Homo sapiens: one gene and its partner. The protein of the gene in region 1 purifies or fractionates together with the protein of each later gene. This does not show direct contact. Each region holds a gene or a part of one and is shown in the gene's direction. Other genes may lie near its edges.

Region 1 (4,277 bases):
TCGCCAAATGACTCTTATTTTCCTAAACTTACTCTAAGAATATCTTTTAACAGCAATTTGAATAAACCGACTCACATGCCACTGTGATTTAATGTGTGATTTGCTGCCGAATCAGCTGTGTTTGGCCAGCCCTTCTGTCTTCACATTTTTCATAGTGTTTATCCTTAAGCTTAGCAACCAACCAAACTTCGAGTGGAATATCAACATTCAAGAGTAAAATGTATTATTAGTTTTCTAATTGTTCCACAAGAGATTGAGTTTGTGTAGTTTACATTTTTGCACTTTCTGTTTTACTTATATCCTCAACGCATGAAATTTTGGCCTGTTCCCCTTTACTATTCACAAACTTCCAAACACTGGTAAAAATGCCTTTGTGTGTCTTTAATTCACGTAACAGATTTGTGTTATGTTAAATGTTAGTGAATATATAAACCTAAGAATACAAGGATAATTTTGTTAAAGAATCAAAAAGTATCAGGACATTCGTTTGTCTTATGGCAGAGACAAATTGAAGTTCCCCACCAAGATATACGTATTTTGGATTTGGGCCAGACAGCTAAAAAACCTGTTTCAACTTAAAACCCAAAAAGGTTTTAAGTTGAAAAAATAATGCTGACTTTTGCTGAAAGTAAATTTTAAACAAAGGTTTTTTTTTTTAATTTACTCCATTAAAAATGCATACATTTGGACAGAGCGAGACTCTGTCTCAAAAAAAAAAAAAAAAGCATACATTTGTAGTCACAGAATTAGTTTTTGTTTTGACCTTGAAAAGGACTTGAAAGTATTTACTCCAAACTTACTTTACACATACTAAAAATATAGTTTTTGAAAAAAGAAAGTTGATGTGGCTTTTCAGACAAGGGAATGGTAGGTAATGTTTTGCATCAGCTCCGGGTCTTGGGTGATCTCCACCAATCAGAGATCCTTCAGAGCTCGTAGGGTCTAGAAAGATCATTATTTTACACCCTCATTTTACAGACAAAGAACCTGAGACCTGCTAGAGTAAGTGACTTGGTTAAGATAGGGAGCGCTCCAGAGACCAGGTCCAAGATCTTCCCCCGTTTCACAATTAGAAGGCGGCTGTCTAGAGGTCATTCCCTTCCTTATGATCCTCATAAAGTTAATTTCCAGTCTCTTGGAGAGAGAACTGGACGATCGCCTGGCTTAGAAGTTTTCCTCCCTCCCCGAACCCCGTTTTCTCTTCCATTTCTTCCGGTCGCGTGTCCCCAGCGCCCACAGGTGGAAATCAACCGCCCGCGGGGTTGCGGGGCACAAAGAGGCAGCTAGCGGCTCCGCTGACCCCTTCCCGCCGGCCTGGACGAAGTCTGGGCTCGGGAGCCGCGTGATGCATCCCAAAGAAGGCGCAGAACAGCACGTGTTCTCCCCGGTGCCCGGGGCTCCCACACCACCGCCCAATCGCTGCGGCCGCCTAGTGCTCGGGCCGCGCCTGCCGGCCGCGGGGACTCCGGGCCCGGGTATTCGCGCCGCCGCCGCCCGCCATGCGCTTCCGCTTTGGGGTGGTGGTGCCACCCGCCGTGGCCGGCGCCCGGCCGGAGCTGCTGGTGGTGGGGTCGCGGCCCGAGCTGGGGCGTTGGGAGCCGCGCGGTGCCGTCCGCCTGAGGCCGGCCGGCACCGCGGCGGGCGACGGGGCCCTGGCCCTGCAGGAGCCGGGCCTGTGGCTCGGGGAGGTGGAGCTGGCGGCCGAGGAGGCGGCGCAGGACGGGGCGGAGCCGGGCCGCGTGGACACGTTCTGGTACAAGTTCCTGAAGCGGGAGCCGGGAGGAGAGCTCTCCTGGGAAGGTATTGCCAGCAGACGCCTGCCCCCGGCGCAGAGCGGGAGCTCCGGCCCGCACCCCCAACCGGGGCCTCGGCCTCGGGCAGGCCCCGCAGGCCCCGGCGGCGCGCGTCCCGGGCTTTTTGCCCGCGTCCCTGCGCACTCCCCGGGCGACCTGGGCTGACCCTGCTCTGCCGGCCACGCTGTCGCCGCCAGCCGCGCCTCCGGCTTCCTACTGATTCCCTAGACCCGTATAGCGCTCCCGGCCGCCTTCCCGCCCACTCTGTTGCCTGCCCCTCTGACCTGGTTTCCGCACATCCAGTCCTCAGCTTCTTTCCAACCGCGCCTGCGTCACGGGCCAGTGCCCTTCGTCTCCCGCCCGGGGCTCCCTTCGCCCTCCGAGTGCCCCTCGACCTCCGAGTCCCCCCCTTCGCGGGTCCCTTGGCTGCCCGGCCGCGCGCCGCTGATGGCTTCAACAGCCCAACTCCGCCTTGGTTGGGTTTTGTGTCCTCATTTTCCTGCTCTAATTCACTAAAAAAAACCCAAAACGATCCAACCAACGAAACTAGCGTTTTCGCTAATCCTAGACAGCAATGTGCTACTTAGATTTTTTTCATAGATATTGAGAATGAACTAATGGAAAAACGTTGAATATTTCCCTTTTTGGATTTTTTTTTCTTTTTTAATCCCAGATATATGACAATTGAGACATGACCTGATTTCTTAAAATACTAAAACAATACATGCTGGTTGTAAAATAATAATAAAGAAATGTACATAGTGAAAACTTACAGTGTTTCCTCCACACATCTTAAGCACACTGCTTGTACACATTTATGTATGTGATATATGCATATACTTTTTTTTTTTACAAAAATTGTATAGTAATTCTGAATTTTTGCTTTTCTTGCCTAACAATATGTTAGGGACATCTTTCACTGTCACTACACGTAGATATGTATTTTACATGTAGATGTATATTTTAAATGGCAACAAATTATTCTGCATCTACCAATGTGCATTTAGGTTCTTTTCAGTTTTCCTCTGTCGTAAACAGTAGTGGCTTAATTGAAATTCCTTTTACAGATATCTTTGAACATTCGGGAGTGTTTCTGCAGAGTGGATTCAAAGAAGTGAAATTATTAGGTCAAAATGCAGTCATTTTTTTTAACACTTCATTAAAGACTGCTAAATTATGCCCTAAAAGGGTGATTATCTAATGTCGGCTCCCGCCAACAGTGTCTGAATTGAGACAGCTCCTTTCTTTAAAGGAAATGTGCAAGGTTGTAGACTGGAGTGGGTGTGACTCAATAGTTGAAGTCAATGAAATGAATGTCTCTTTAGAAGTTTATATGAAAAAAAAAATGGGCCATTTAGCCTGTAATGATGTAGAAACAAAGAATCAGTAAAGAAGATTAGAGTGGAATGTGTTTATATATTATCCTTGTTCTCCTTCTCTACCTCACTGGGCTTATGGTCTGGTAGCATTTATTGGTCTGTTATTTTACCATGACAGAATTGAAAGATACCCTCTTCAGTTTATCCTTTCTTTACAGAGTATTACTATTTTTCATAGTATTGTAGAATTATTTTTTAAAATAATATCTGATAATTGTAATAAAAATGGAAATGGTGTGAAACAAAGATCTTCCCTTTCCCTAGTTATTTAGCTTTTCTGATAGTCCTCCCTATGCCGTTAATAGTTTGCTTATGTTGCTATTTCTTAAGGTACCACAAACTTTTGTTTTTAATTTTTCTAATAGTTACCATATAAGTTATATATAATTTTAAAAGTTAAAATTAGGCAATAGATATTGACACCTACTGGATGCTCATAAAATTAACCATCACACTTGTTATGAAATATGAGGAATTTAGCTCAAGTTCACTCTCTGTCTTCCCTGCTGATTTTTTTTTACTATTATTTTCAGTTTTTTTGATAAATATTTTTCTTTACTATCCAAGCAGGAATTATTTTCAGTTTTGTATTAAAAATTGACTGTTGACTTTCTAGGAAGTTACTCCTATAAGAGAGGATAAGAAAAATATTACAATTTCTTCCTGTCTCACTTTGGTTTATTATGACTTTTACATTATCAAGTTTTATATAATTTATATTCTATTTTCTAATTGTTACAGTGCCTTCTTGTTTAAGGTAAATAGACTGATTCTAAACATCGTAAATTAACAGAGAGCTTTATGAGAAGCAGGGTAGCCAAGTGTTTAAGAGCAAGGATTCTGGAGCCAGATTGCCTGGGCTCACCAACCAGTGTGGGATTTGAGGCGTGTCACCTCAGCTCACAATGAAAGGACCAAGCTGCCTAATAAATGAACTGTATTTTGTAGAATAGGATATATATTAAGAACTTACAAGAGGACATATGGTAAATGTTAAATAAGGGCTAGTTATTATTTTTTACTATGATTATTGGGAAACCACGTTGTGCAATTAGACTCGTAAACAAGGAAATAAAATTTTGTGACATGAAAACTGTACCACTGC
Region 2 (4,184 bases), on another chromosome or scaffold:
AGATCGCGCCACTGCACTCCAGCCTGGGCGACAGAGCGAGACTCCGTCTCAAAAAAAAAAAAGAGGAGGAGAGGGGCTCCTGCTCACCCCAGTTGCACTGGCTGAGCACAGGAGGGGTATCAAGATCAGGCAGAGTTGCACGTGCTCACGGCAGCAGGAGCATCTCCTGCATCTGGTGCCCCTGGCCCCAGTCCCCATTCCGTAGCTCAACTCAGCAGCACCTCCCGCTCCTGCAAAGGAGACCATGGTGAGGGCAGGAGAAGGGCATAGCCTGCTGAACGCAGGGTGTCTCTTCTCTAGGTTGTGAGGCTGAGGCTTTTTCACCCCCACTTCCTGGAAGTTCCCTCAACGGAACCTGCCAGAAATCTGCCCCTTAGGATGCTAGGGGAAAAGCTTTTGCTGGGGAAAGGCTCGCCAGAGGCATCTGCTATAAAACCGGCGAGGAGGGTGCTGCTGACCAGGGCAGGGGACAGGCGTCGGGGAAGCCCGGGGCCGCCAGCCGCAGGGCCAAGCCCTTTTCTCCTGCAACGTCTCTGGCGCCCTCTACCGACAAAGCCTAACAGCGCCAGCTGGCAAAAGAGAAATACCGAATATTTGAGCCGCCCAGATACGCTTTCGCAGAGAGCATCGGTGAATCCTGGGCAATACACTGACAACTGGAAAAAACGTTTAGAGATCCCTTAAGTGCTCCATGTTTTCCCAACATTTACCCACGGCTCGCTCTAACATCTGAAATAATAGTAATCATTTTTGAAATTATTTTGATGGAATTAAACAATTCCAGCACTTGTTAAATAGGCACATACTTAATTTGCAAAACGCCGTGCAAGAACCCGTAGCGCACCTGGAGAAAACTGTCTGGAGGCGGCTCAGGCACTCCGGGTCCAGGCAGGACGCGGGACGGGGAGGGGCCAGGCCTGGCGCCCGGGGCTGAGCCCGCTCCTGCTGCTCGGGGCGTCCACGCCCCGCGGCCTCTGGGAGGGGCCTGTGGCAGGAGGGAGGCCCGGGAGAACAGGCCCTTTCCTGGGCCACGGGGGAAACCCCTGCCCCAGGTGTGTGTCTCTCAAATGCTGCGTCGGGCCACGCGAGGATTGTTTTGTGGCTACAACAAAATTAACTATGCTTGCACAAAACTTTAGCCAATACCTCAAAGGGAAACGTAAAAGGGGAAAGACGCACTCTTACCCCACCCACTCCAAGGCAGCAGTCAGCACACCCAAGCCCTCGTGCTCCCACGCGGGTTTCACCGAGTGCCCCACTCCAGGGGGCCCGGAGAGCCGGCCCAGGTCCCGGCCCCGCCCACCCGCGCGGCCCCGCCCCCGGCCGCGAGCGTGCGCGCCCCAAGCGGAGACCCCGCCCCCGGAGCGCGTGCCCGTGCGCCGCCGCCGCCATTTTGGAGCGATCGGAGTGCCGCCCGCGGCCCCGAGTCGGTCTCGAGCCGCCGGCCGGCCGTGCCGGTGTCCGTAGGCGCTGCGCCCTCGGCCGGGCCCATGTGTGTGCGGCCCGCCCGAGGCCGCCCGGGCTTTGCCTCCACCAGCGCCCTGGCCTCCGCTCGGGCCTCCACACGGGCCTCCGAAGAGCTGCCGCGACGCCCGGCCCGCAGGGCAGGTGAGTGCGGCCGCCCGCCGCTCAGACCCGGCCCCCAGTCTGCCAGTGCCCCCCAAGTCACTTCTCCCCGAGTCAGTCAGTGCCCCCTCCAGATAGTTATCCCCCAGTCAGTCAGTTCCCCCTCCAGTCAGTTCCCCCCAGTCGGTGCCCCCGGAGTCAGTGCCCCCCCCAAGTCAGTCAGTGCCCCCTCCAGTCAGTTCCCCCCCAGTTAGTGCACCCTCTAGTCAGTTCCCCCAGTCAGTGCCCCCTCCAGTCAGTTCCCCCCCAGTCAGTTCCCCCCCAGTCAGTTTCCCCCCAGTCAGTTTCCCCCCAGTCAGTGCCCCCCAGTCAGTGCCCCCTCCAGTCAGTTCCCCCCCAGTCAGTGCCCCCTCCAGTCAGTTTCCCCCCAGTCAGTGCCCCCTCCAGTCAGTTCCCCCCCAGTCAGTGCCTCCTCCAGTCAGTTTCCCCCAGTCAGTGCCTCCTCCAGTCAGTTTCCCCCAGTCAGTGCCCCCTCCAGTCAGTTCCCCCCCCAGTCAGTGCCCCCTCTAGTCAGTTCCCCCCCAGTCAGTGCCCCCTCTAGTCAGTTCCCCCCCAGTCAGTGCCCCCTCTAGTCAGTTTCCCCCCAGTCAGTGCCTCCTCCAGTCAGTTTCCCCCAGTCAGTGCCTCCTCCAGTCAGTTTCCCCCAGTCAGTGCCTCCTCCAGTCAGTTTCCCCCAGTCAGTGCCCCCTCCAGTCAGTTCCCCCCAGTCAGTGCCCCCCCAGTCAGTTTCCCCCCAGTCAGTGCCCCCCAGTCAGTGCCCCCCAGTCAGTGCCCCCTCCAGTCAATTCCCCCCAGTCAGTGCCCCCTCCAGTCAGTTCCCCCCCCAGTCAGTGCCCCCTTCAGTCAGTTCCCCCAGTCAGTGCCCCCTCCAGTCAGTTCCCCCCCAGTCAGTGCCCCCCCAGTCAGTTTCCCCCCAGTCAGTGCCCCCCAGTCAGTGCCCCCTCCAGTCAATTCCCCCCAGTCAGTGCCCCCTCCAGTCAATTCCCCCCAGTCAGTGCCTCCTCCAGTCAGTTTCCCCCAGTCAGTGCCCCCTCCAGTCAGTTCCCCCCAGTCAGTGCCCCCCCAGTCAGTTTCCCCCCAGTCAGTGCCCCCCAGTCAGTGCCCCCTCCAGTCAATTCCCCCTAGTCAGTGCCCCCTCCAGTCAGTTCCCCCCCAGTCAGTGCCTCCTCCAGTCAGTTTCCCCCAGTCAGTGCCTCCTCCAGTCAGTTTCCCCCAGTCAGTGCCCCCTCCAGTCAGTTCCCCCCCCAGTCAGTGCCCCCTCTAGTCAGTTCCCCCCCAGTCAGTGCCCCCTCTAGTCAGTTCCCCCCCAGTCAGTGCCCCCTCTAGTCAGTTCCCCCCCAGTCAGTGCCCCCTCTAGTCAGTTCCCCCCCAGTCAGTGCCCCCTCTAGTCAGTTTCCCCCCAGTCAGTGCCTCCTCCAGTCAGTTTCCCCCAGTCAGTGCCTCCTCCAGTCAGTTTCCCCCAGTCAGTGCCTCCTCCAGTCAGTTTCCCCCAGTCAGTGCCCCCTCCAGTCAGTTCCCCCCAGTCAGTGCCCCCCCAGTCAGTTTCCCCCCAGTCAGTGCCCCCCAGTCAGTGCCCCCTCCAGTCAATTCCCCCCAGTCAGTGCCCCCTCCAGTCAGTTCCCCCCCAAGTCAGTGCCCCCTCCAGTCAGTTCCCCCAGTCAGTGCCCCCTCCAGTCAGTTCCCCCCCAGTCAGTGCCTCCTCCAGTCAGTTTCCCCCAGTCAGTGCCCCCTCCAGTCAGTTCCCCCCCCAGTCAGTGCCCCCTCCAGTCAGTTCCCCCCCCCAGTCAGTACACCCTCTAGTCAGTTCCCCCAGTCAGTGCCCCCTCCAGTCAGTTCCCCCCAGTCAGTTTCCCCCCAGTCAGTTTCCCTCCAGTCAGTGCCCCCCAGTCAGTGCCCCCTCCAGTCAGTGCCCCCTCCAGTCAGTTTCCCCCCAGTCAGTGCCCCCTCCAGTCAGTTCCCCCCAGTCAGTTTTCCCCCAGTCAGTTTCCCTCCAGTCAGTGCCCCCCAGTCAGTGCCCCCTCCAGTCAGTGCCCCCTCCAGTCAGTTTCCCCCCAGTCAGTGCCCCCTCCAGTCAGTTCCCCCCCAGTCAGTTTCCCCCCAGTCAGTTTCCCTCCAGTCAGTGCCCCCTCCAGTCAGTTCCCCCCATCAGTGCCCCCCTAGTCAGTGCCCCCTCCAGTCAGTTCCCCCCCCCCGGTCAGTTCCCCCCCCCAGTCAGTGCCCCCTCCAGTCAGTTTCCCCCCAGTCAGTGCCCCCCAAGTCAGTGCCCCCTCCAGTCAGTTCCCCCCCAGTCAGTGCCCCCCTCCAGTCAGTTCCCCCCAGTCAGTGCATCCTCTAGTCAGTTCCCCCCAGTCAGTGAACCCTCCAGTCAGTGACCCACCCAGTCAGTGCCCCCTCCAGTCAGTTCCCCCCCAGTCAGTGCCCCCCTCCAGTCAGTTCCCCCCAGTCAGTGCATCCTCTAGTCAGTTCCCCCCAGTCAGTGAACCCTCCAGTCAGTGACCCACCCAGTCAGTGCCCCCTCCAGTCAGTTCCCCCAGTCAGTTGCCCCCCAGTCAGTGCCC

The links. Proteins that work in one complex are often made in the same cells at the same time.
Region 2: the proteins of EPM2A (region 1) and PPP6R2 purify together in Homo sapiens (affinity purification with mass spectrometry, with the first as the bait; one large-scale study listed by BioGRID). This does not show direct contact.

The regions. Positions count from the first base shown.
Region 1 is NC_000006.12:145,732,721-145,736,997, reverse strand, and holds the start of EPM2A (laforin), read left to right. Parts: upstream 1-1,477; 5' UTR 1,478-1,499; coding exon 1,500-1,800; intron 1,801-2,077; exon of another isoform or gene 2,078-2,129; intron 2,130-4,277. UniProt on the Homo sapiens protein: Plays an important role in preventing glycogen hyperphosphorylation and the formation of insoluble aggregates, via its activity as glycogen phosphatase, and by promoting the ubiquitination of proteins involved in glycogen metabolism via its interaction with the E3 ubiquitin ligase NHLRC1/malin.
Region 2 is NC_000022.11:50,341,943-50,346,126, forward strand, and holds the start of PPP6R2 (serine/threonine-protein phosphatase 6 regulatory subunit 2), read left to right. Parts: upstream 1-1,384; 5' UTR 1,385-1,608; intron 1,609-4,184. UniProt on the Homo sapiens protein: Regulatory subunit of protein phosphatase 6 (PP6). May function as a scaffolding PP6 subunit. Involved in the PP6-mediated dephosphorylation of NFKBIE opposing its degradation in response to TNF-alpha.